Homo sapiens: one gene and its partners. The protein of the gene in region 3 purifies or fractionates together with the protein of the main gene of each other region. This does not show direct contact. Each region holds a gene or a part of one and is shown on either strand. Other genes may lie near its edges. The genes, in order: ST14, ITGB4, GXYLT1, ABHD17B, CLGN, KREMEN2 and DSC2.

What was found.
Region 1: the proteins of GXYLT1 (region 3) and ST14 purify together in Homo sapiens (affinity purification with mass spectrometry; one large-scale study listed by BioGRID and IntAct). This does not show direct contact.
Region 2: the proteins of GXYLT1 (region 3) and ITGB4 purify together in Homo sapiens (affinity purification with mass spectrometry; one large-scale study listed by BioGRID and IntAct). This does not show direct contact.
Region 4: the proteins of GXYLT1 (region 3) and ABHD17B purify together in Homo sapiens (affinity purification with mass spectrometry; one large-scale study listed by BioGRID and IntAct). This does not show direct contact.
Region 5: the proteins of GXYLT1 (region 3) and CLGN purify together in Homo sapiens (affinity purification with mass spectrometry; one large-scale study listed by BioGRID and IntAct). This does not show direct contact.
Region 6: the proteins of GXYLT1 (region 3) and KREMEN2 purify together in Homo sapiens (affinity purification with mass spectrometry; one large-scale study listed by BioGRID and IntAct). This does not show direct contact.
Region 7: the proteins of GXYLT1 (region 3) and DSC2 purify together in Homo sapiens (affinity purification with mass spectrometry; one large-scale study listed by BioGRID and IntAct). This does not show direct contact.

The regions. Positions count from the first base shown.
Region 1 is NC_000011.10:130,158,337-130,162,581, forward strand, and holds the start of ST14 (suppressor of tumorigenicity 14 protein), read left to right. Parts: upstream 1-1,445; 5' UTR 1,446-1,643; coding exon 1,644-1,724; intron 1,725-4,245. UniProt on the Homo sapiens protein: Exhibits trypsin-like activity as defined by cleavage of synthetic substrates with Arg or Lys as the P1 site. Involved in the terminal differentiation of keratinocytes through prostasin (PRSS8) activation and filaggrin (FLG) processing.
Region 2 is NC_000017.11:75,727,959-75,731,458, reverse strand, and holds part of ITGB4 (integrin beta-4 isoform 1 precursor), read right to left. Parts: intron 3,083-3,500; coding exon 2,986-3,082; intron 2,195-2,985; coding exon 2,023-2,194; intron 1,219-2,022; coding exon 955-1,218; intron 585-954; coding exon 495-584; intron 214-494; coding exon 91-213; intron 1-90. UniProt on the Homo sapiens protein: Integrin alpha-6/beta-4 is a receptor for laminin. Plays a critical structural role in the hemidesmosome of epithelial cells. Is required for the regulation of keratinocyte polarity and motility.
Region 3 is NC_000012.12:42,099,875-42,103,374, reverse strand, and holds part of GXYLT1 (glucoside xylosyltransferase 1), read left to right. Parts: intron 1-3,500. UniProt on the Homo sapiens protein: Glycosyltransferase which elongates the O-linked glucose attached to EGF-like repeats in the extracellular domain of Notch proteins by catalyzing the addition of xylose.
Region 4 is NC_000009.12:71,876,694-71,880,193, forward strand, and holds part of ABHD17B (alpha/beta hydrolase domain-containing protein 17B), read right to left. Parts: intron 1-3,500. UniProt on the Homo sapiens protein: Hydrolyzes fatty acids from S-acylated cysteine residues in proteins. Has depalmitoylating activity towards DLG4/PSD95. Has depalmitoylating activity towards GAP43. Has depalmitoylating activity towards MAP6. Has depalmitoylating activity towards NRAS.
Region 5 is NC_000004.12:140,393,149-140,396,648, reverse strand, and holds part of CLGN (calmegin precursor), read left to right. Parts: intron 1-443; coding exon 444-557; intron 558-679; coding exon 680-830; intron 831-2,607; coding exon 2,608-2,823; intron 2,824-3,500. UniProt on the Homo sapiens protein: Functions during spermatogenesis as a chaperone for a range of client proteins that are important for sperm adhesion onto the egg zona pellucida and for subsequent penetration of the zona pellucida.
Region 6 is NC_000016.10:2,962,789-2,967,074, forward strand, and holds the start of KREMEN2 (kremen protein 2 isoform d precursor), read left to right. Parts: upstream 1-1,486; 5' UTR 1,487-1,732; coding exon 1,733-1,826; intron 1,827-2,070; coding exon 2,071-2,245; intron 2,246-3,351; coding exon 3,352-3,443; intron 3,444-3,536; coding exon 3,537-3,661; intron 3,662-3,853; coding exon 3,854-4,007; intron 4,008-4,121; coding exon 4,122-4,286. UniProt on the Homo sapiens protein: Receptor for Dickkopf proteins. Cooperates with DKK1/2 to inhibit Wnt/beta-catenin signaling by promoting the endocytosis of Wnt receptors LRP5 and LRP6.
Region 7 is NC_000018.10:31,081,922-31,085,421, reverse strand, and holds part of DSC2 (desmocollin-2 isoform Dsc2a preproprotein), read left to right. Parts: intron 1-2,361; coding exon 2,362-2,496; intron 2,497-2,998; coding exon 2,999-3,184; intron 3,185-3,500. UniProt on the Homo sapiens protein: A component of desmosome cell-cell junctions which are required for positive regulation of cellular adhesion.

The DNA of each region.
Region 1 (4,245 bases), on a different chromosome or scaffold from region 3:
AACACTAAAAAACCCCATCGGTGTCTTCGACCCAATATGCGGAAGGAGTATGAAGGAGAAGAGCTTCCAGGGGATGAAAAGCTTTATGAAAGCTGCCAAGATCAGAACGCCTGGCTGGAGAGAGGGGCTCCAAACAGGAATGCTTGGAGGCACGGTGTTAAGGGAGGACAGGGCAGAGTGTGAAGCTGGGCTAAGGAGGTTGGATTTGATCCGGGAGACACGGAAAGTCATAAAGGAGCTGTGGTTTCAGATTTACCTGACTGCTTTGTGTAGGAGAGATCAGAGGGTGGCAGCCCAGAGGCAGGAGATCTTTCTTAACCAGGCAAAGGGCTCTGAGGACTCGAATAGCGGTCTTCTAATGCGCAGGAATGGAAGGGCTATGCTTGTCAGCAGAGTCTTGATCAGATTTGGAACTAATTGGATATGAGATGTAAGCAGGGTGGAGAATCAAAGATGATTCCAGGATTTGAGCCTGGGAGAATGCTGCCATTAGAATTAGAGAAAACAGTGGAAAATGGGCAAGTCAGGGAAGGAAGATGGGGCTTGTTGATCTCAAAGCAGGGATTTTTATTTTGTTCACTCCTGTTTCCCTGTACCCAGGACAGTGCTTAGCGCCTAGTGTGTGCTTGGTAATGTTCATTGGCTACAGAATACAGTAGAACATAAATGGAGACGTCCCCAGGCGACCGCTAAGGCAGAACTGGCACTCCTTGGTGGTGTCTGTGCTGGGAGGGAGGTCTTCCTGTCTGAAGTCGTAAGATGAGACGTGCTGCCAAGAGAAAAAGCTTAGAGAAGAAAGGGATGAAACTGAAGGGAGAACTTTGGGAATCATGACATTTAGGACTAGAAAGGAGGACCGGAATCCAGGGAAAGGGGGCATTTGAGGAAGCATCAGATGCTGCAAGTGGGCGAGGGGCGTTGGGATGGCTCAGAGGGCATCTGGTGGCACAGCTCATGTCACTGGGCCTCCCCAGGGTAGCCGGGCGCAGGCCAGCAAGCGCCTCCCGCCTGGAGAACAGGAGGCTGCGTAGCCGACGGGGAGCCTGGGCCAGGGGCGGTTCTGGTTTCTGTTTGGTTTTGGGGGGTTCATAAATGCGATTTAGTCCTGTAGCAAAGTGAGCAAGGTGAAGGGGAGAGACCGGAGGCGCATGAGGGAGGAGGGAAAAGATGGTTGGCATCAAGGAGGTGGATAAAGGGCTGCCCTCCCGGGGCAGGGCCCCTGGAGGGCCGGAGGGGTGGTGAACGCCGTCGTGGTGATGGTGAGGGCCTTAGCGACCACCACCCGAGTGAGGCCCCCTCACCTTCAGGCCCAGAGCCGAGGGGAGGAGCCTCCCCCAGGGCCGGCGGGGGCGGGCAGGTGAGCCGGGCAGGTGCGCAGGCGAGCGCGGCGGGCTGGGCGGGCCGAGGCCACACCCTGAAACTACCTGCGTGGGCCGGGCCGGAGTGTGAGAGCGGAGCTGCAGCCGGAGAAAGAGGAAGAGGGAGAGAGAGCGCGCCAGGGCGAGGGCACCGCCGCCGGTCGGGCGCGCTGGGCCTGCCCGGAATCCCGCCGCCTGCGCCCCGCGCCCCGCGCCCTGCGGGCCATGGGAGCCGGCCGCCGGCAGGGACGACGCCTGTGAGACCCGCGAGCGGCCTCGGGGACCATGGGGAGCGATCGGGCCCGCAAGGGCGGAGGGGGCCCGAAGGACTTCGGCGCGGGACTCAAGTACAACTCCCGGCACGAGGTGAGCGCGGGCCGGGGACCCGGGGCGCTGGGAAGCTCCTGCCCGCCCGACCCTGCAGCGCGGCGCTGGGCTCGGCCGGCTCCCCTGGCGTGTCCGTCGGTGGCCGAGCTCTGGGCGCACAGGTGGAATTTCCTGTTCAGCGGGTGCCGGGCCGCGGGCGGGCGGGGCTGGCCGGACCTTTGGTACCGGACCGGCTGCGCCCCGCCAGGGGGAGGCGGGAAGCCCCTGGGCCTTCCTGCGCCCTCGGTCCTTTCTTTCCCTGAGTTGAAAAAAGGGGCTCCGTCTCGGCCCCTCCATGACTCTCGCGCTGTTAGTGAACATCTGGAAGAAACCAGGGGCTTGGAGTGGGGTTATTTGGGAGGAAGTGAAATTTCAGGAGGGTTTGGAGTCTCAGCCATCCTTGGCCTCTGCAGAAAGTTTCTTTCGTCTCTCTCCTTCCCCGTCAAAAGGCGCTTTGGGACCTCGCAGAGGACAACTGGGAGGCCAGGGCTTTGGCTGCCATACGGGCTGGAGCTAAGAACTCCAGAGTTGGGCTTGCCTGGGCTTCTCGAGAGGGGATGGAGCCCTTTGGGAAGGCGGCTGTATGGGAAGGGATGTGGGAACACACATGTCTTGAGCCTTTTGCGAAGTACCGAAACAGGAAGCTCTTCTTTGGCAGAAAGAACAATGAAAGACCTATTGAAAGATCTCAAAAAGATTACATGTTCCTGTATGGAGTTGGGGATGGGTCGCTAGTCACTTCATTGACGGACCCACCTAGGTGGTAGTGCCCGGGCGGGACCAGCAGCCAGGTCTCTACCCTCTCTGTCCAAGGCAGACCCCCAGGTTTCCTGGAAGGCCAGGGCATACCAGGTCAGGGCGGCGCTGAGAGGCAGGGGCTGTGTGGCAGAGAGTTTTGCTCCTCTGCAAATGATGGCCTCCCTGCCCTGCCAACCCTCACTTTCTCCCCTCCTTCCGGGTGCCCCTGGGCTCCATAGTCTCCGCCGTTGCTCCCTAAGTCAGGCCTGATTTTGGTGCTGTCTCAGATCAATTCCTTTTGTCCAAGCAGCATCCCGACCTAGGGAGCTTGCAGAAAATCAGACGCTGGGGCTTTGGAGGCTGCCTGCACCACAGACAGGACCTGGGGCTGGGCTCTGCTATTTTCTCCACTTTTCACCCTCAGCAAGGAGGAAAGCTTCCAGTGGACCTGAAGGCTTGGGCCCTTCCCCTGGCTGTGCCTGTGCCCTGCTGTGAGGCAGATTCACCTTCTCTTCCTTGCTGTAATTGCTATGTTTGTGTCCTTGCTAATTGCCTACTTGGGGTTCTAGACTCCCTGCCTCTTCAGCAGAGAACCTGCTGTTTGGAATTTGTTATTTCAGGGCAGTCCGGTGCCCCCACCCCAAGTTTGTTCTCCCTGACTTCCCTTTCTAGGACTCTCCTGCCCACACGGGGAAAGCAGGGTCTTCCTGGTCGTGTGGTCCAGCCTCCTCTCTGAGCCATCTCACCACCTGACAAGCAGCCAGGCTGGGGCTCACCTTCCACTCACCCCCAGGATCCCACATTCAGCGGACTTGTCTTGTCACCTGCAAGCCCTGGCTTTAGTTTCCCCCATCCCTGCTCATTTCCTCCTCCTCTGCGAAGCTCATTTGCTCTCTGCGCCCTTGGGCTGTTCCTTCCCCCTCTGCCATTTTCATTCTCTTGGCTTGCTCTTTGTCTTTTCTCCTGCCGAGCTTTATTGAACTAACTCAGTACCTAGTCCCATGGGTGAAGGGAAGGCTCTCAGAGACCAGTAAGATGTGGTTGTTTCCTTTAAAGAACATCCAGTCTTGAGAGCGAAACTAAGAGACGAATGCCAAAGTTAGCTGTGAGGCGGAGTGTCCAGAGGAAATTGGCCAAAGCTCATTTCCATGTCTTGCAGATTCCTCCCATCCCTGGCCTCACCAGAAATCCCAGTCCCTGGGATCACCCTGTAGTGTGTGTTTGCAGCTAGGATGTCCATCCCCGGCCGGGAGGTGTGGCTGCTGCCCCTGGGTTTATTATCTGGGTCAGCAGAGCCTGGCCCACAGGGTGCTGTTGTTTCTGGGTTCCTTGTCCCCAGTTGCATCCATCCGTGCACCCTTGTTTGGTGGTATTTGTATCTGGCTGTCCCCTTCCCAAGGCTGGTGGTGTGGCCCCTGCCCCACCCCTGCTGTTCCCATCAAGTGTTCTGCGTGGCCTTCAGAGTCCTGATGCACGTTACTGCATCTGGGGATGGTGTGAGCCCTGCCTGCAAGCAAGCAGGGAAACAGATGCCACTTCTTATGGCCATTAATGAGAGCCAGGGAGCCTGCCTCCCTGAGGGTCTTGATTCCTGTTGAGTATTTGATGGTGAATATGAAGCTGCCTTGACATCCACTGGTTCCTTTTCCGATCACAATTGCCCTAGGTAAGACTCAGCATCCCTTAGGCATCCAGAGACCAAGTTTGGAAAAATCGGATGTTGTGTGGCCAAAATCAGATGTCTAGGGGCCAGGGTGTACACCTCTGGCTATTCAGAGGGTCA
Region 2 (3,500 bases), on a different chromosome or scaffold from region 3:
GGCCACGCTCTTGACCGCTGTTTTAAACGATTCCACTCGGTGTGGGGCGCTGTGCCTATCCCCCACCCCGCTGCCCCCACAGAGGCGTACCACTTCCCCCCGCCGGATGTGAAAGGACCCAGTCCTCGTCTTCTGGAACATCTTGGAGGTGACCTCTGTCCGAAGGCCTCGGGGGCTGTCTAGGGCCCGGATGTCCAGGTTGGAGCGGATCCGCTAAAGGAGGAAGGAGGTTGATCAGTGCTCTGTGGGGGGCCTCTGTGCTCCACCCCAACCTCCAAGTGTGGCTGGCATCATGCGGGGTATCACAGAGCCTGCAGGAGCCAGGGCCAGGCCCAGGTGGCCCCTCGGGGCCTCAGGGATAGCTAGAGACCCTTCCTCACTGGTCTGTCCCAGACCCATTTCTCCACCGTGATCCAAGACACCTCTTGCCCACCCTGCCCACTTCCTGCCCTGCCCCAGAAGGGCTCAGACTCTGGAGCCTGAGCTGCCCTCACATTGAAGGCCTCCTCCAGCAGCTCCACGATGTTGGACGAGTCCTCCTGCAGCACCCCCAGTGAGGAGACAGGGAAATAGGTGTGAAGCTTCTGCGGGAGAGAAGGCCAGGTCTCAGGCTAAGCATCTCCATGAATCTGAACAGCTCTAGGATTCTTCCCACTTTGAGGATGGGGAAACTGAGGCCTGGAACCTACTGTGGTGTCGCAGAGCCTGCCCTCTTAGCCCCCACCTGCTTGGGAGTTGGGGTGGAAGATGGGCACATGACCTCCCCTTCCCACTAGGGCCCACATTTTGGGGGGTCTAAAGGCTTTGGGAAGGGAGGAAGGAAAGGGAGGAAAAGAGGGAGGGAGGAAGGGAGGAAGGGAGGGAGGGAGGGAGGGAGGGAGGGAGAGGTGTCTGAGAAGCTCCATGGACCCCCTACCTTGACCACCTCCCACCCGTGGGACCTGGGCCCCGCACCTCGTAGTAGCTATAGGAGTAGTTGGTGACAGCAAAGATGGGGATGATGTTGTGCTTGGCGAGCAGGCGCACCAGGGTGGGCACCGACGGGTAGTCCTGTGTCCTGTACTGGGTGTAGGTGCCCGTGGTGTCCAGGTGGCACCGTTCATCGTTGCGGCTCATGATGCCAGCCAGCACGTTGGCGCCATCAGCCTCATAGTGGAAGGCTGACTCGGTGGAGAAGACCAGCAGGTGGGTGCTGTCCGGGCGCCAGCCAATGTCCCTCTGGGGAAGGCAAGGCGGGGCGTGCCCACTGAGCAGGCTGCCTGCTGACACGCATCACGGCGTCGTGTAGGACGGGGAACGCGGGTCCCAACATGGGGCTGGGCTTAAGCCACTGGATTCACAGCAAGTGCCCTCATGAAAGATGCATCTGACGGCACATGACTGAGTGACAACGCTGAGAAACAGGAGCTGGAGATGCGGCCCCCGCAAGGCGCTGGGGCCACAGGCGTGCATCACACCCAGCTAATTTTTGTGTTTTCTGTAGAGACAGGGTCTTGCCATGTTTCCCAGGCTGGTCTCAAATCCTGAATTCAAGCAATCCCCCCGCCTCGGCCTCCCAAAGTGCTGGGATTACAGGTGTGAGCCACCACGCCTTGGCTAGCTCTTTGTTTTCTAACCTAGTAATATGGGTATGTCATTTTCAGAATGAACAAATGGATGTACATATCAAAGGAAATGGCTTATTTGGATGCCCAGAACAGGTGGAGTCTGGGCAGCTGGTGGGTTCAGGGTACTAAAGATTCCAGAACGCTAAAGCCCAGGTCTGCCTTGGTAGCTGATACGAAACCAGGCTGTGACTGCTCAGGCCAGGGGACCGTGGCTCCAGGCACATCTGAACTCAGATTGTAACTGAGACCTACTCACAGAGTCTGAGCTTGTCTCAGGGTGAAGGGGTTGCAGGCTCCCAGGCTTTCCCTCAGGGCCTGTGAGCCTGGCACCAGAGCAGGCCAGGGGGCAGCTCAGGCCCTTGCCCAGAAGTGCTCACCCCTGGCCTAGGCTGGCAGCACCCTTCCCAGTGCCCACCGTGCACACAGCTGTCTGCAGGATGGCATCGAAGCCGCCCTCAGGAGCATCCAGGTTGCCTGAGATCCGCTCTCCCTGCAGTTTATTCCGGAACTCATCCACATCTTCTGTCAGGCTGATGACGTTCTTGAAGGAGAAGGGGGGGTCACTGTTGGGCCAGGGCTCCTTCAGCCTGGGCAGAGGTGGGAGGGAGAGAGAGTGTCACAGGGGGAAGACGCCGCAGACCCCAGTGCCCCTGGCTCGTTTCAACTAGAAGGAGAATTTTTTTTTTTTTTTTTGAGACCAAGTCTCGCTTTATCACCCAGGCTGGTGTGCGGTATGCACGATCTTGGCTCACTGCAACCTCTGCCTCCTGGGTTCAAGTGATTCTCCTGCCTCAGCCTCCCAAGTAGCTGGAATTACAGGCGCCCACCACCACACCTGGCTAATTTTTTTTTTTTTTTTTTTTTTGTTGAGACAGAGTCTCATTCTGTCGCCCAGGCTGGAGTGCAGTGGCGCAATCCTGGCTCATTGCAAGCTCCGCCTCCCGGGTTCACGCCATTCTCCTGCCTCAGCCTCCCGAGTAGCTGGGACTACCGGTGCCCACCATCACGCCTGGCTAATCTTTTGTATTTTTAGTAGAGACGGGGTTTCACCGTGTTAGCCAGGATGGTCTCGATCTCCTGACCTCGTGATCCACCCGCCTTGGCCTCCCAAAGTGCTAGGATTACAGGCGTGAACCACCGCGCCCAGCCAATTTTTGTATTTTTTAGTAGAGATGGGGTTTTGCCATGTTGCCCAGGCTGGTCTTGAACTTCTGACCTCAGGTGATCTGCCCGCCCTGGTCTCCCAAAGTGCTGGGATTACAGGCATGAGCCACCGTGCCCAGCCGTAGAAGGATAATTTTAAGTTGTGGGTGAAAGAGGAGTGGGGGTCACATGGCCTGGACCCTTGCCCACCTGCGGGACCCACACAGTCACTTACTTCTCAGGCCTCATGTCCGTCTGCGGGACGCTGACTTTGTCCACAAACTTGCCAAATCCAATAGTGTAGTCGCTGGTGAGCTGGCTCAGGACCCGAGCTGGATGTCAAAAGGACAGAGAGGGGATAGCTGAGCCCTGATGCCTGGCATAAACACGGGCCCCCCACCAAGGGCTGGCTCAGAAGGGAGGAAGAGGGAGGTTAACGCTTTGCATGCTGGACAAAGGTTCATGCTCACAACATTGTCTGTTCCTATTTATGGATGAGGGAAATGGGACTGGGGGTCTGGAGTTATGCGTACAGCAAGGGCAGGGTGGCTGGGAATGCAGCCCAGCTCTGAGGAGCAGAAGCTTCCCCACAGCCTCGTGGCAGGGGGTGCCCTCCTTGTCAGGGCCAGATGGCTCCACTGCCCGCCTGCCCTGGGCCTTCTCAGAAGTCCCCAGTGGTGAGTAGGGTCTGACCGAGATTCTTCCCTTGAGAATGGAAGGGAAGGTTTTTGGGGGCTCAAATGTCCAGTG
Region 3 (3,500 bases):
TAGGACAAAGGTCATAGTTTATTTATTTGCCTTGCTGTCACCTGGTTCTTACTACTTGTGGCTGTTCATTTCGAACCTGGTGTATTATAGTTATGTATATTAAAAAGTTAAAATAGGTCCAGGTGTGGTGGCTCACGCCTGTAATTCCAAGACTTTGGGAGACCGAGGTGGGTGGATCACTTGAGGCCAGGAGTGTGAGACCAGTCTGACCAACACAGTGAAACCCCATCTCTACTAAAAATAGAAAAAATGAGCTGTGCATGGTGGTGCATGCCTGTATTCCCAGCTACTTGGGAGGCTGAGACAGAATTGCTTGAACCAGGGAGGCAGAGGTTGCAGTGAGCTGATATTGGGCCACTGCACTCCAGCCTGAGCTACAGAGTGACAATGTGAGTGAGACTCTGTCTCAAAAGAAAAAAAAAATTAAAAAATTTAAATTCAAATAATTTAATTTAATGAAATAATTATTAAATTAAATTAAATATTAAATACAACTTTTTAAAAATCATAATTTTTAATCTCATAATTGTATATTTGCTAGATAATGAATAACATTGGTTAAATGATTACGTTCTATTTTGCAGTATCGTATTTGCCGTGTTGAATCCCTATTAGGGTATTTATTTTCTCTCCTTCTAAAAAATGTATTACTGTATTTCTTAGCCTTTTCCTGTTTATTAGAGAAAAACCAAAGAGTATAAATTAGACATGGTGGGAATTTTTTCTTTGTTTACTCTGCCCTTTTCAGCTTTCTATATATTATTTTGTAGAGTATTTTTTTGTCTGTTTGCTCCACCTACTGAGGGCAGGATGTGTCTTTTATACAGCTTTATATTAAGAATATTTAGCACAGTGTCTGACATAAAGTAGCAACTTGATAGATAATTGCTAGCAAAGGAGAGTCAGATGAAGGTTTTAGAAACTAGGCCATTAATGAATTGAAAAATACTGGAAAAGGGAACACTTTGTATGAAGTAGATACAATGCTTTTACATATTTGTAAGATGTATGTGATAAAGAGTTTTCTTGTGTTAGTACATAGCTTATGAGAGCAGAATAACAACAACGAACATCTTGCCAAAGGGGTAGAACTTTTTAAAGTGAAGTAACTAATCTTTGGGAATTGATGAGTTCCCACTTTTTTGTTGGAGCATAATGTGAATGCGCTTTAATTTTATATGTATGTATAGGACAGGCTGATAATGACAGTCCATTCATTTTCAAAGCATGCTTAATTCAAAAAATGAAACTAATTGATCTTGATGTAACATACATGTATTTGGTCATAGGTTTGCTAAATTTTGTAAAATTAGAACTACAGTTTTCTGTTTTAAATGTTATGAAACTAAATTGTGCTTATAAAGATTCAAAAAAGTAATTTTATGTAGAATGAAAAGACAGGTCTCCCCTTGACATATCTCTTCACACTTTCATGCCTCCACCCAGAGTGACACTATAAACTTGGCTATGTGTTCTTTGGACCTTTTAAAAAGTGCATTTTGAGGCTGGGTGCAGTGGCTCATGCCTGTAATCCCAGCACTTTGGGAGGCCGAGGCAGGTGGATCACTTGAGGTCAGGAGTCCTAGACCAGCCTGGCTAATATGGTGAAACCCCATCTCTACTAAAAATACAAAAATTAGCCAGGCATGGTGGCAGGTGCCTGTAATTCCAGCTACTCGGGAGCCTGAGGCATGAGAATCACTTGAACCCAGAAGGTGGAGGTTGCAGTGAGCCAAGATTGCGCCACTGCACTCCAGCCTGGGCGACAGAGTGAGACTCTGTCTCAAAAAAAAAAAAAAGTATTTTGAAACAAGCATAGGTGTGCATTAGCATTTAGATATAGGATTCTTTTATACATCTTCAGCTTTTTTCATTTAGTAAATATATAGTTGACTGACTTCTATGTCATTACACATAATCACATTTTTAATGTGTGTATGATGTGGAGAATGGATGATTTTATTTTCTCTTTTTGTGTGTACCTAGTATGGATATGTAGTTGTATGGCTGAAAATATATTTTAAAATTCATATTTTCTTGACTATACTACCGGTGTGGTTAAAAATCTTTTCTTATAATTTGTAGCCATTTCTGTTTCTTCTTTTGTGAATGGCTGCTTGCCCATATCCTTTGCCCACTTCTTGGTTTTCTCTTTCTTATTGACTTGAACTCCTTTTATATGTAATACCTCTTTATTAAACTCATTTCTCATAGCTTTTCATTGGTTGTCTTGGATAATCTAGGTTATATCATTAGCAAATAATACTAGCGTTATCGCTTCTTTTCCAAATAGTTTTCTAATGGGACTTTTTTCTTTAAGGTTTTTTTCCCTTTTTATTTTTTTCCTAAGACTGCAGTGAACTCTTAATTTTGTATTTCATTGATGCTCTTTGAATAGGTACATTTCTTGTAAGATATATATTCAAATATATATATTTGATTTATATTGGTTTTTATAATTTAAATATGTATCTGTATTTCTGTGTATATTTGAATAGATAGAATCACATGAAGACTTTAACATGGTGTTGTACAAGGGCTCCACCAGTTCTGTCTGTTGAAAGTGTTCCTGGTTTTTGTCCTTGTGTAATTGATATTTTTCTTTTCAGATCCTAAGAATATTTCCTTAACATACTCAATGACTTATTTCTAAGAGTTATCTTTTCAAATTGTTTCCTTAAGTAAAACTTGTTTTAGTCATTTTCCAGATTAAAAAAAATTCTGATTATAATTACTATTTACTGTGTTCTAAGAAATTTCACACAAGGATAATAATGCAGTTGTAGCACATCAATTTAAGTATGTGGATTTTTTTTTTTTCATGAATTCTGGCCTTCTCTTTTTTAAAGGATAGATTGTTTATATCGTCACTGAATTTAATATAAATTATAAAATGACTTATAACAATGTTTCTCAAACTATGGCAAAAGATTAATTTTTAAAAAATTTTCAGTATGTTATGAGCCAATACTTTTGTAAAAGAGAGATTACTAGAGAAATATATTAAGTACACATAAAACTGTTAACTTGCTGTAAAAGTTTCTAAATCTTACTCTTAATTTCTATACTTAATTACTTAATCTTATTGAGGACATAGAAAAAATTTACATAGTAGCACACTATGTGAACTGCTGTGAACTGCACTATGAAGAATACTGGTTTTTACTCTGGATAGTCCCCGAGTCACATAGATCTAAAAGGCCCGGTATTCACTTCTACCCCTTCCAACACCAAGTTCTCATTGGACTCAGTTTCTTGCTCCCTTAAGTATTTAACTTTGGGTTTTCAAATAACAAGTTTTGAGCATTAAGAAAAAAGCATTACATTCAGTATCTGAAAAAGCACTAAATTCAGTATCTTTTTTATTTTAAAAAAGCATAAAATATAAATTGATAGATTATTAGTATTATATTTTTATCTCATTTCAAAAGGCAGCATTGTGCTTAATGGCTAAACAGTAGGAGCTTTCCAGTTAAAATGAAGATAAGGATATCTATTAA
Region 4 (3,500 bases), on a different chromosome or scaffold from region 3:
GACTAAATGGTTGAGAATATCTGGGGGAAAAAATGCCCTTTTCACTCAATACAGAATCAAATATATCCTATAATGCTCAGTATAAATGTGTTTATAAGAAGCAGCAGAAAAAAGCACAGGAAGAGAGGAACAAGGGTAGGTATAACATAAAAGACTTCAAAAGGTGAGGGAAGGGCAGAAAAACATCTTGGATATTAGGAAATGCTTTAATTGCTTCCTACCTTTATTTCTTTTTAGGCTTCAAAATACAGCCTGAATAAGTTAATGGCTTACTCTGGTTGGAACAAGAAATAGGACAGAAATAACAACTAAGTGTCATCTGCTAACTTTAACTGAGGGCTTCCTGAAGTGTTGTGCTGAGAATGATTCTAAGGCATACACAGGGCTTAGCCAGCAAAAGATGTGATAAATTAGTGATGTTTACTATAGACTCTGGCTACAAATTTACTATCCTGGTCAGGAGGATAAAGTGTCTGTTGAAGAAGATGAAAGGGAAGGAACTCAAAGGATCTGTTCCAGAGGAGGAAATGACCTGCAGAAAGATGATGAGGTACAAGGTATAATATCAGTGCTGTCTGTTTAATATCTGTCTATGGTTATTTGTCAACCCTGATTACCTCATATACCATTGACTGCTGAGCCACAATAGCCTTTTAAAAAGCTTAATAAGTAAATGGTACGTATCTAGACTATAGTCCTATAATTTATCTCTTAGCCAGAAACACTTTTGTTGTTGTTTTTCGAGACGAAGTCTCACTCTATCGCCCAGGCTGGAGTGCAGTGGTGCGATCTTGGCTCACTGCAACCTCCGCCTCCCACATTCAAGTGATTCTCCTGCCTCAGCCTCCCCAGTAGCTGGGATTACAGGCACACACCACCATGCCCAGCTAATTTTTGTATTTTTAGTAGAGATGGGGTTTCATGATGTTGGCCAGGCTAGTCTCGAACTCCTGACCTCAAATGATCTGCCTGCCTTGGCCTCCCAAACTGCTGGGATTACAGGCATGAGCCACCGCACCCAGCAGAAAAACTTTCATACACTATAATAAACTACTTTTGAAATAAAGCTGGCTGGTTGAACATATATAATGCTGTGAAGAAGTTTCTGGGGATGAACACCAAAGGAGAGAAGCAGAAAGGAGAAAAACTGCAGTGCCAGGGTCTAGTTTAATGACAACTTCACTTCCTTAATGCTGACAGAATGACTCCCCTCTTCCACTGCCCAAAAGCCAGATAACTGGGGCTTATTTAATGACAACAACTTGCAAATGATCACTTTCCTAATAAGAGGCCTGGTATAGGGCAGCAACACAGACCTACTTTCAAAAGTTAATTGAATACTTTTTAAGTCTGAAAAATTTCACAAAAACTATAAACAAAACAAATAAATCTAGGTTTTAGTATAGTGTGAGCAAGTTACTGAAGAAAAACATTTTATTCTGTAAAAAAAAAAAAAAATCACTGAAATAGCTTGTTAAACTTAGATAATTTCAAGTCCAACTTGTTCTTATAAAACTCATGCCAGACGCAGTGGATTGCTTGAGCAGTTAACAGTTGAAAAACACATCAGTGAGCTAAAAGATCAGGTTGAGTAATTTGCAAATATGGAATTTTTTTGTGGGAATTAAGAGACAGAAAACAACAAAATTTAATAGATAGAAATAGAAGTAGAAATATCACTATCCATACTATAGAAGTTCCAGGAGAAAATAAAGATAAGACTATTTAAGAATTTCTCAGAATTAAAGGGGGAAAAAAAGTCAGATTGAAACACCTCAAAGTGTACCAAAAAACAACAAACTACTTAAAAATGAACAAGATCAGATGAACATATGACTTTCTAATATAAACACTGGAAGCCAAAAGACAATGGAGAGATAATTTTAAGCTAAAGATGAAATCAAACTTTTAACCTAGAATTGTACATAGAACAAAAATACAGTTTTAATATAAGGATAAAGGTATCTGGGCTGGGTGTGGTGGCTCACTCCTGTAATCCCAGCACTTTGGGAGGCCAAGATGGGAGGACCACTTAAGCAACATAGGAAAACATTGTCTCTATCAAAAAAAACAAAGAGAGAGAGAGATCTGCAGGCCCACAAAAACTCGTAAGACTTAACCAAATCAAGTCTCTCTTTGAAAAACTCCAGCAAGGAGGGAAGGAGATAAATCCAAGGGAAGGCCAGGCACAGTGGCTCACACCTATAATCCCAACACTTTGGGAGGCCGAGGTAGGAGGATTGCTTGAGCCCAGGAATTGAAAACCAGCCTGAGCACCATGGCAAAACTCCATCTCTATAAAAAATACAAAAATTAGCTGGGCATGGTAGTGTGTGCCTGTAATCTCAGCCACTGGCGTGGCTGGAGTGGGAGGACTGCTGGAGCATGGGAGGTCAAGGCTACAGCGAGCTGTGATAGAGCCACTACACTCCAGCCTGGGCTACAGAGTGAGAGCCTGTCTCAACAATAACAACAAAACAAACAAAAACCCCCCAAATCCCAAGGGACTTCTATGAGATATCTGAGATATGAGAAATAAAGGAGAATAGTTAATACAATGTTTTTTGTACAAGTGAGCAATGGGAGCAAGGAGGGTGAAGACAACAAAGTATATCCCTAAAAATCCAGAACAAAAACTTTGGTGAATATGAATACGAAGAGGATTGACAAAAGAGAGACTACTTAAGAGGTAAAAATGTGCTGGGGTACCTGACTTGTTGAGGATGCTACTGATACTGATAAGCTTAAGACATAGAAGAAAAGCCTGAATATAAGCATGACTCTTAATAAGTCAGATATAATCATCAGAAAAATGATAGTGCAGGGCACATCTAAAGGAGTTACAATTATCCATTACAAAAGTCTAGCTTTAAATATTAGTGTCCAACTTAAGAAGAGAGTAAACAAAAAGAAAACAAGAAAAAGAAAATTAAGAGCAGATATCAACAAAACAAAGAACAAAAAGCAATGGAGAACCAACAGCTGATTTCAGAAAAGGCTTCCACTACTACTAATAGCAAATAGCATTAACTGAACACTTACAAAGTGTCAGGCACTATTCTAAACACTTTTCACATATTAACTAATCCTTTCAACAATCCTCTGCTTTAGGGACTATTATTACACCCATTTTGCAATTGAGAAAACAGAGGCATAGAATAGTTACATAAGTTGCCTAATGTCACAAATCTGATCAATGGAACTGATACATGACAGAATGACTCTGTAACCCAAACTCATAACTACTGTTTTGTGGAAAGGGTACTCAGACAAGACTGATCACAAGAAAGAGATAAGCAAAATAAACGAAATAATGTACTAAAGGAAAAAGGACTTTGAGCTACAGACATAGTTTCTAGAAATGAAAGAATATCATGTGTCAATAAATAACCTAGACAAAACTCACGCACTTCTTGAGTAATATAAAAGGACAAAATTGGCACAAAGGCTAGAATATGCAAATAACCATCAGAACTTCAAAGGGAAATCAAAGACCACCT
Region 5 (3,500 bases), on a different chromosome or scaffold from region 3:
GAAGGCAGAGGTTGCAGTGAGCTGAGGTCGCACTATTGCACTCCAGCCTGGGAAACAAGAACAAGACTCCACCTCAAGAAAAAAATAATAATAATGGAGCTCCTCGAACAGTCTTGACACATAGTAAGCATGCAATATATATTTGTTGATGAATGACTGAGTTTTTAAGTAACAAAAGCAAGGTCTAATACATTATGTATAGAATGCTATCATTCGTATTAAAAAAAAGAATGTATACGTGTGTGCATGTATGCATAGAGCACAACAGGGAATATGTACCAAAAATTGGCAAGTTAGCAAAAGATTTAGGTGGGTAGTAGATGAGGACAAATAACAGGCACAAACAAAAGGGAGGGAAATAATTTTATGGTACCTTCTTAGTGTTGTAACATGCATTTTTAAACTTTCTGAATAATTAGTAATATAAAACGTTGTATTTACAGGGATGAAAGTGAACCTGCCCAAATAGAAGATTCAAGTGTTGTTAAACCTGCTGGCTGGCTTGATGATGAACCAAAATTTATCCCTGATCCTAATGCTGAAAAACCTGATGACTGGTAAGCACTCTTCATCTTCAAATGTCGATTTCAAATGTTTCTTACATGCATTTTTGTTACTAGTTTATATGACTGATCTGAGACTTGAGGTTACTGTATTTGCTTTGTTTTAATATCCTAAGGAATGAAGACACGGATGGAGAATGGGAGGCACCTCAGATTCTTAATCCAGCATGTCGGATTGGGTGTGGTGAGTGGAAACCTCCCATGATAGATAACCCAAAATACAAAGGAGTATGGAGACCTCCACTGGTCGATAATCCTAACTATCAGGTAACAACCGCTTGTTCCAATTATTTAGTGAAGTTAAAAATGTTGTGATCTTTTCTATTTAAATATCTAATTACCTATGTCAACTTTTGGAAGTTTCATTTTTAATTTTAAGATGTCAAAGAAAATAGACCTCAACTAATTTATATTTTAAAAGTAGAGCATCAATTATTTAATTTTCTGGGGAAATAAATCACTTCATACTATATTCTTCCCTAATTATCAGTTGATGCTCACTTTGAAATAAAGTTCTATTTTAGAAGTAAATATAAGAAGTGAATTTTGATCAAATAGACTCATATTGTACATTTTAGTAATTAATGCCTGTGCTTAATTAATGTACTTATTATTTAGTATTATTAAAATTCTGATTTTTGGCCAGGTACGGTGGCTCATGCCTGTAATCCCAGCACTTTGGGAGTCCAAGGCGGGCGGATCACGAGGTCAGGAGATGGAGACCACCCTGGTCAACATGGTGAAACCCTGTCTCCACTAAAAATACAAAAAATTAGCCAGATGTGGTGGCGCACGCCTGTAGTCCCAGCTACTCAGGAGGCTGAGGCAGGGGAATCTCTTGGACCCTGGAGGTGGAGATCGCAGTGAGCTGAGATCGTGCCACTGCACTCCCGCCTGGCGACACAGCAAGACTCAAAACAAAAAAACAAAAAAACAAAAAACCTGGCCTGGCGTGATCTTGGCTCACTGCAGCCTCTGCCTCCTGGGCTCAGGCGATTCTCCTGATTCACCCTCCTACGTAGCTGAGATTACAGGCACACCCCAGCACGCCCGGCTAACTTTTGTATTTTTAGCGGAGACGGGGTTTCACATGTTGGTCAGGCTGGTCTCGAACTCCTGACCGTGATCCGCCCACCTTGGCCTCCCAAAGTGCTCAGGTTACAGAAGTAAGCCACCGAACCCAGCCCTGATTTTTTTCTGATATCAATCGACATCTTTTGAGTGTACCTAGCTTTTTATATTAAAAGTTTCTATGTTATCCACTTAACCCTCTAGTTTTATCTTTGTAATTATTTATGGATACGTTCTAACATTATATATATGCAGTTTCATATTCTAATTACTCACTGTAGTTTTTATTAAAAGCATTTAACACAAAATGTTTCTTTTGGTAAATTTTTTTGTTTGATGTCTGTCTCTTTTATTTGACTTTAAACTCCATAATACAGGAACCATGTATGTCTCCATCATCTGGCATAGTGCCTGGCCCAGAATACATACATGTGATGGTGGAGTGAGTCAGTGAGCAATGATATTGTTGAATGTATTTGATTTAATGGACAGTTTAATCATTTAAGATCTAATGGAAGTTTTAGGTTGAGTAGTTGTGCCGAGATTCAACCATACCTGATTAATGATATCTGTCATGGGTATATGTTAAATGGAGTAACTCCATTTTTGCTATACAATGATCTTTCTGATTTGGACAACTTGAATAACATTTTGCAATGAATAACTTTACTAAATCTAAAAATTTGTCCAAAGTAGACAAATTGTGAAATTTATTCACGTTTCTGTTTATGTTGGATTTTCCCTTTTCCTTTTCTTGCAGAATTTAAAGTTAGTATCACTCGTAGGGAACATTGTGTACACAGCAAAAGAAACAAGATTTTATATCCAGTATATTACTAATGAATTAATATCAGTTAAAATTCTCTTTTTTCCAGTTAGCATTGCGAATTTCATTCAACAGCAGCTACTTATTAAGCAGCATTTATAATGAAGTTATTTTATTTGAAAATGTCTTCAATTACTTTTCTTCCAGGGAATCTGGAGTCCTCGAAAAATTCCTAATCCAGATTATTTCGAAGATGATCATCCATTTCTTCTGACTTCTTTCAGTGCTCTTGGTTTAGAGCTTTGGTCTATGACCTCTGATATCTACTTTGATAATTTTATTATCTGTTCGGAAAAGGAAGTAGCAGATCACTGGGCTGCAGATGGTTGGAGATGGAAAATAATGATAGCAAATGCTAATAAGGTATGGTGTTGACCAATAGCAGTAGTGATATAACTATGAATAATAATACTTGGTCTTGGTTGTAGGTTATTCAGATGGCTCTTTTAAATGCAAATAAATGTGCAGTAACTACTAAATGCCAAGGAAATGTGTTTGAATAAGTTTATGTAGACAGAATATTTTGCTTTTTATGTTACTTCATTATGAGCTATATATGCATATGTAAGTCCTCATTTTATTCATTAAATTATAACATCACTAATGGGATTTAATGCTTATTTACTGTTCATAGAAGAAGACTACTTAATATCTTTGTCATCTTGCCAGTTCAAGACCTAAGTGACAATGATAATCTAAATATTACTGTTTATTTAACTATTTTTTACTTAGAGGAATGTACAAAGAATTTATAGTTTAACATTATTAAATTCTGTTCCAGTTTTTTCCCGAAACCTTAACACTGTTTAGAAAAGGTTGGGCTAAATATTTCAACACAATGCATCTTAGAAAATGTATCATTAAATTCAGTTGCTATAAAGAAAAATTCTTACCTTACATTTGGTTCCTTGGGTCACTAGCGAAAAACCATCAAAAGAGTAGGTGAAGAGGGATTCTTGTTTTGAACCTCTTGTAACTAAAACATTTGATTTTTTAAATTTTATTTTAATAAGAGAAATAATATCCTTACTGAGGGTCTT
Region 6 (4,286 bases), on a different chromosome or scaffold from region 3:
AGGACTTCACTGAGCCCCCGCCAAGAGAAACCGGGCAGACAGGTGGTCCCGGATGCTCCCTCGTCGGGAAGCGCAGTTGGGTTCCAGGGAGCCCGTGGGTGCTGGAGGCCCCAGCTCAGGGCTCAGTGAGCCGGGCCAGCCTGGCCTCTGAGAGGGCTCCCGGAGGAGGCGACCAGGACCCTGGCCTAGAGTCTCAGCAAGTCCATCTCCTTCAAATGCCCCCACCTCGGCTCCACGCCCCTCCTCCAGAGCACACTCGCGTGAGGCGCCAGCTGGAAGATCCTCGCGGGTCCCAGCACCGCAGTGGGTGCCTGGGCCTGACAGAACCTCCCTGAACCCCATCTTTCTTCTCCATCGACACCGGGGCAGAGACGGTGTGGGGGCTGCAGGGCGGGGACTGGTCGGCCTGGGCTCGACAGCTTGGCGAGGGCCTGGTGCGGGCTGGGCAGGCTGGACTGAGGGGCAAAGAGGTCTGGGCGGGGCGGGGCCGCTCTGGGCGCCCGGCCCCCACCAGTTCCTTCCCCCGGCCCCCGCCTCCGCCCTCCCACGCACCTGCGCTGGCCTCCCCCCAAGCCCTGGGGGCAGCGGGCGGGTGGCGCTGGGAGATCAGAGGACTCGGAGGAGTCGGGCCCAGGGGGAGGGGGCGGGGAATTTCCCCCCACGCCTGCCTGGGCCTGCTCCCCTCCCCCTCCCCCGCCAGGTGGGGGGCACGGCTGGGGGAATTCCACTGCAGTGTGAAGGCTCGGGAGAGTCTGGGCTGGGGGTCCCAGGGAAGGGCGGGGCAGGGGGAGGAGGAGGGGACAGACTGGGACCTGGGGCGCAGCTGCCTTTCTCCCCAGACACCAGCTGCCCCTGCCTGTCCCGGACTGAGCGTCCACGACTCCCGCCTGTCTCGTGGGCGCGGGGGCAGGGAGTGGAGCTTCCTCCGTCAGGCCAGCGGCATCTGGACCAGGGGCGGGAGGGGCGTGCGGATCCGAAGAAAGTGTGCGCGTGAGCGCCTGGCAATGAATGGGAGAGAGTGCGAGCGCGTGCGTGCACTGGGAGGAGGGCGCTTGTAACTCGGACATTCCGGGTGTCCTGGGGCGCGTGCGACCACGTGAGGGGGTTCTGTATCTCCCATTTTAAGGGCCTTCCGTCCGCTTGCCCCGCCTGTCCCCCTCCACACCTTCCCACTTGAACCGGCACCGACCTGAGGGAGAGGGGGCCGGGAAGCGCTGGACGCCCGGGGTCGGGGGAACGGGCGTGGGAGGCGTCTGGACCTGCTGCCTCCGCTCCAGTGCTGGGCGGGGCTTCCCGGCCTCCCATGGGGGGAGGGAGAGACCCAGGGGGAGGGACCCACGGAGGGATGCGAGGCGGGCAGGAGTCAGCCCGTTGGAGACCTGGGCGAGGGAGACGCCGAGAGCTAGGCTCAGTGGGAGGGGGCGGGCGTAGAGGCTGAGGCACCGCCCAGAGCTCGCTGAGACAGAGACTGAGAACGCCCCCGGCCAGATTCCCCCCGGAGAGACCCGGGTAGGGACAGGGACAGAGAGACGCCTCTAGGGGCAGAGGCCCTGGGAGGCAAAGACCCCCAGGAGAGATTTACCCACCCCAGACGGAAAGCGCGGCTCAGAGTCGGACGAGGGGAGACTGTCAGAGGACAACGCCCCCTAGGTCTCCTGGGAGACCCCGAAGCGACCCCGGGGGCAGCCCGGGCCGTGTCCGGGCGAGGGTGACCTATCCTTGGTTGAGAGCGATGGGGACACAAGCCCTGCAGGGCTTCCTCTTTCTCCTCTTCCTCCCGCTGCTGCAGCCGCGTGGGGCCTCGGCTGGGAGCCTGCACAGTCCAGGTAAGTCCCCGCACGGCTGTCGGGCCGTGTTCACCACCCCTTCCTCGGCCTCCGCCCCCAGGGCCAGGCCCCCAAGGCTAGGGAGGGGGACAGAGCAGGTGGCCGGAGCAGCTGAGCAGCCCGAGGGCTCCTGCAGGGGCGGGTGCGGGGTCGCTGGCTGGGGACCCAGGCGGGAGGTGGCGTAGGGGCGCGAGGATGCCCGGCGTGGGTCCGGACCTCCCCAGGCCCTGCCTTTGCCGTGCAGGCCTGTCCGAATGCTTCCAGGTGAATGGGGCTGACTACCGCGGCCACCAGAACCGCACTGGCCCGCGCGGGGCGGGCCGCCCGTGCCTCTTCTGGGACCAGACGCAGCAACACAGCTACAGCAGCGCCAGCGACCCCCACGGCCGCTGGGGGCTGGGCGCGCACAACTTCTGCCGGTGAGGGGCGGGGCCTGCGCTGGGGGCGAGGCTGGGCTCACCATTGCAGGGATGGCCCGAAGCGGGGCCTCCGTGCGGGCGGGGTGGAGGTCTGCCGTGGACTGGCAGCCCAGCCTCCTGGAGAACCTGGGGGCGGGGCCAGAATGAGGGGCGGGGCGGGGCGGGGCGGGGCGCGCGGAACCCTGGCGCAAAAGGGATCCTCCTCAGGTGAACAATTTCTGCAGAGCTCCAGTTCAGGGCCAGGAGAGAAACGGACCTGGGCACTCAAAGGACCCGTATGGGCGGGGCCTGGTCAGAGCGGGGGCCGAATGGGCGGGGCCTTGTCAGAGTGGGGCTCTTGTCATACAACTTATTTTGGGGTTCAGAGCCACAGCTACGGTCTGAGGCAGGATGGACCCAGCGGGAGGAGAGCCGCAAAGCTCAGGAGCTCACTTCTGCTTTTAAGTGGGGTTGGAGGCCAGGCGCGGTGGCTCAGCCTGTAATCCCAGCACTTTGGGAGGCCAAGGCAGGCGGATCATCTGAGGTCAGGAGTTCGAGACCAGCCTGGCTACCATGGTGAAACCCCATTTCTACTAAAAATACAAAAAATTAGCGGGGCATGGTGGCGGGCGCCTGTAATCCCAGCTACTCAGGAGGCTGAGGCAGGAGAATCGCTTGAACCCGGGAGGCGGAGCTTGCAGTGAGCAGAGATCGCGCCAATGCACTCTAGCCTGGGTGACAGAGCGAGACTCGTCTCAAAAAAAAAAAAAAAAAGTGGGGTTTGAGGGACGGAAGTGGCTGAGGCCCATGCCGGGTGGGGGTGAAGAATACAGATGGCCTCAAAGTCCTCATATATGGAGTCAAGTCTAGCAACAGCTGAAGCCTAAAAACAGCTCTCAAGTCCCCTTTAATGACTTCCCGCTGTCCACTCGGAAGTCGACGTCCAGTTCCTTCATCAGGCAGAGTTCTGCGTAGACAAAACTGGAATTTGTGGGTGTACAGCAGGCAGCACAGCCGCTCACAGGCACAGAGCCTTGAAGGCCACTTTGAGCATAGGCTGCGGGGCCGGGCCTGGGTTTGCTATTCTTGGGGTGGTGGGAGCCCCACCACCTCCCTCCCACCCGCAGTAACCCAGACGGTGACGTGCAGCCGTGGTGCTACGTGGCTGAGACAGAGGAGGGCATCTACTGGCGCTACTGCGACATCCCCTCCTGTCACAGTGAGTAGCGCGGCTGGACAGAGGTGGGAACGCTGCTGCATCTGGGAGGAGGGTTGTTTTCGGAGTCACGGAAGTCTGACTCTGCCCCCTCAGTGCCAGGCTACCTGGGATGCTTTGTGGACTCAGGGGCACCCCCAGCCCTCAGCGGCCCCAGCGGCACCTCCACGAAGCTCACGGTCCAGGTGTGCCTACGCTTCTGCCGCATGAAGGGGTACCAGGTACTGCTCACGGGCCCAGACCAGTGACCCCTGACCTGGACCTAAAGACCACACTCAACTCCCAACACTCGGTTGCCAAACCCAGACACCGGTTTCTGAACCTCCAGCCCGATTCCCACCCCGACCCCAGGCCCCCACCACTTCACCCCTACCCCAGCCCCTGCCCTGGGGTCACCCAGTCTGTGCTCCCAGCTGGCGGGCGTGGAGGCCGGTTACGCCTGCTTCTGTGGCTCTGAAAGCGACCTGGCCCGGGGACGCCTGGCCCCCGCCACCGACTGTGACCAGATCTGTTTCGGCCACCCTGGACAGCTGTGTGGCGGCGATGGGCGGCTGGGCGTCTATGAAGGTGAGGAGTGGGCGGGGACCAGGGGCCTGGGCGGGCCTCGAGGTGGGGCCTGGCCGGGCAGGGGAGCCGCCGTGTCCTGGTCCTCAGGATGCTGACTGCCGGCCCCGCCCGCAGTGTCGGTGGGCTCCTGCCAGGGGAACTGGACAGCGCCTCAGGGCGTCATCTACTCCCCGGACTTCCCGGACGAGTACGGGCCGGACCGGAACTGCAGCTGGGCCCTGGGCCCGCCAGGCGCCGCGCTGGAGCTCACCTTCCGCCTCTTCGAGCTGGCCGACCCGC
Region 7 (3,500 bases), on a different chromosome or scaffold from region 3:
ATAACAGTAAAAATTGTTACACTTTTTCTTCTTTTTGTACTTACAAAATAAGTACATTTTCCAAAACAGTACAATTTAGTGGGAAGAATGACATTGTTATGCATTTTTCCAAATGTTTTTAGTATTTTGCTTAAGACAGGTGGATTCTCATATCTCCTTCTGCATTTAGTCTGTTACAATATGTAGTTTTAGCTGAAGCATATATAAAGGCAATCTGACATGATATAAAATTAGAAAAGAGAGTAGTATTTTGATGATAATTACAGATCACTGTGGATATTATTCCTTGATACTACATGAATACTTGATAAGGAGTAGCTTGTTTCCTAAATGTTTTTGGTAATGTGGACTCTGAATCCTCAACAATGACCTTTTGTACTTTATTACGTTAAAATCCATTGCTCTATCTTACACTTTGAGTGACCATTTTACCAGTACATCATTCTATATTGTGCATTGGTCATTTGGAAAATATTGGTTCACCAAGTAATGCAGAGCTTCCAAATATTGACACATTGCATTAAATAATATCAAAAAGATCACCTCTTTACTTCCATTGATATCACATTGGTTGATAAAGGTTTTCCAAGCTTCTCATTTTTGTTTGAAATCTCCAATTTATCATTGGCAACAAATAGTTGTTTTCCCTGAAGTGACAGATTAACTTTATGTTTTACAAAATACTTTCATAAAACTATAGTCTGCATAGCCATAGATGTCTATGTGAAAATAGCATTCTATGGAAAAAAAAAAAAAGCAAAAACTCAACAGCTTGTTCAGCTCCTAAATCAAACAATCACAGAAGTGCTTTTCTTTGAATAGATTCTTCTGAAATAATCAGTTGAAAACACTTGTCCAGTGAAGGTGTTTATCCAGTGGTGCTCTCTAGTAACTTTTTGACCTCAGGATTCCGGTTTTCTTCAGTTGCCTACAACCTTTTAGTCCCTTTAAACATCAGAATTTCTCTTCCATCTGAAGATAGCATAAGTTAATACTTAGGGTATCAAACTTCATTTCCTTGTTTCATTAGCCAGTTAATTATTTCCAATAAATTTTAGTTCACTACAAACAAAATATGTATTCCTTCTTGAAAGTACAGTAGCATGATGTTTTAAAATTTTTCAGTTGAAATAAGGCCATTATTTTTCAAGTCTACACATGTGATTGGTTATGAGGGAGGAGTAAATCTGGAAAATTATGTGTGTTAAAAGCAGGAAGATCAAGAGAAACTTTAGTTTTATTTTAGATAATGCCTAAGGAAAAGAAAGTTTCAGAGATGATGGAATTAAGGGAAGAATCTTTGTAAGAGAAGGGTGAACATTCTAGGTAGAAGATGAGGATAGATTTTAACATGCTATTTTGTCTTATGAAAAGAGATAAATTAGGTAGGAAAGGTAAGCATCACCATCTTATAGAAGAAGAAACCTAGACAAAGTGAATTTTCCAATTGCCCAAGATTGTGTCTCTTATTTTTGGAGTTGGAAATAGAACCCAAGTCTCCTAATGCTCAGTCCGGAAAGCATTATTACTGTATTGTTTTTAATTCTCCCATATCTCAATCACTTATGATAAATGAAAGTTATAAGGAGAAACACTTTAAAATATTTAAATGCTTCAGATGTTTAAAAATATTTTTTAAGGTAGTGATGAGTTTTCAACAATATCTGATAAATTGAAAGCCTTAAGAGCCAGATTCTATTTTCCACAGAAAGAAAAAAACCTACATAGCCCCAGACCTTTATCTTCATGTCAGTTTAGATGATCTCTTAAATGTAACATAAACCCTTAAAATCTATATTTTTTGCAGGAAGAAATTTCATTTTATTGTTTTGTTAAAAGACTATTTTAAGAGTCATTGCTGTCTATTTTTTTGAACATAAGAATGTACTTTGGCTAGGAGATAAAGGTTTTGATTAATTACCAGGCAATTTTAAATGCACTTGTGGCAAATAGCTCTTCTTTTTCTGTTGAATAAAGACAAAACCAATTGAATCTATATTCTGTAAGTTAATAGCACTATAAATTTGAGAAACTATTCAATTTTCATAAATTGATTAAAAATTCCTAGTGTGATTCTCCTGCCTCGCTTGAACCCGGGAGGCAGAGGTTGCAGTGAGCCAAGATCACACCACTGCACTCCAGCCTGGGCAACAGAGCGAGACTTCGTCTCAGAAAAGAAAAAGAAAGAAAAGAAAAGAAAAATTACTAGTGAGAGAAAATTCTTCTAATACACGAATGCTGTGAAATGTAATAATGCACTTCTTAAATTCTTAGTGCAAAAAAATTATGGAGTGTAAAGTAAGATTTCAATTATAATGTTGGTGCTTTCCCCCAATAATTAAATTCTTTTTTTGTTTTCAGTTAATTGACAAGTACCAGTTGAAAATAAAAGTACAAGACATGGATGGTCAGTATTTTGGTCTACAGACAACTTCAACTTGTATCATTAACATTGATGATGTAAATGACCACTTGCCAACATTTACTCGTACTTCTGTAAGTGTATGATATTAATTAAAGAAAAATGTATAGACCAGTTTTAATTGTTTAATATGCACATCTCTGGCCTGGCGCAGTGGCTCACGCCTGTAATCTCAGCACTTTGGGAGGCCGAGGCGGGCGGATCACCTGAGGTCAGGAGTTTGAGAACAGCCTGGCCAACATGGTGAAATCCCGTCTCTACAGAAAATACAAAAATTAGCCGGGCATGGTGACAGGCACCTGTAATCCCATCTACTCGGGAAGCTGAGGCAGGAGAATCGCCTGAACGTGGAAGGCAGAGGTTGCAGTGAAGGAAAAGAAAAAAATGCACATCCCCATCCACCCCTCATGATTTCAAATGAAGTGCCCCAGTGACATTAAAAGTTGTATAGTGCTAGGGTTTCAAATCATGTAAACATAGTACTTTGGAAATTAGAAGAGTAGGATTTACTTCACATCGTGTTCAATTTTTGTGAGAGTTACTAACGAAATTTTTTGTTTGCTTTTATTATTTTAGTATGTGACATCAGTGGAAGAAAATACAGTTGATGTGGAAATCTTACGAGTTACTGTTGAGGATAAGGACTTAGTGAATACTGCTAACTGGAGAGCTAATTATACCATTTTAAAGGGCAATGAAAATGGCAATTTTAAAATTGTAACAGATGCCAAAACCAATGAAGGAGTTCTTTGTGTAGTTAAGGTAAGAATAAATTAGAACATTATTTGTAGTTTATAATATCATAGAATAGCATGCTAGAATTTAATGGAAAGAAAGGAATTCTGATAAATGTAGAATAAAATAGGTATATAAGTAAATGCAAATGCTCTGTTCTTCATATACAATGGAAAGAATATATTAGTTTTTGATAATCTTTTGTTTAGGTATTTTTTTTTTTAAAAAGTCCATATAATACAATATCTATTTTGTAACCAATATCTTTAAATGGTTCAAAAACTAGCACAGCTTTGATGCCCCTGGGACAGTGCCAGACTTTTCCTAGCCCAGTTTTTCTGTG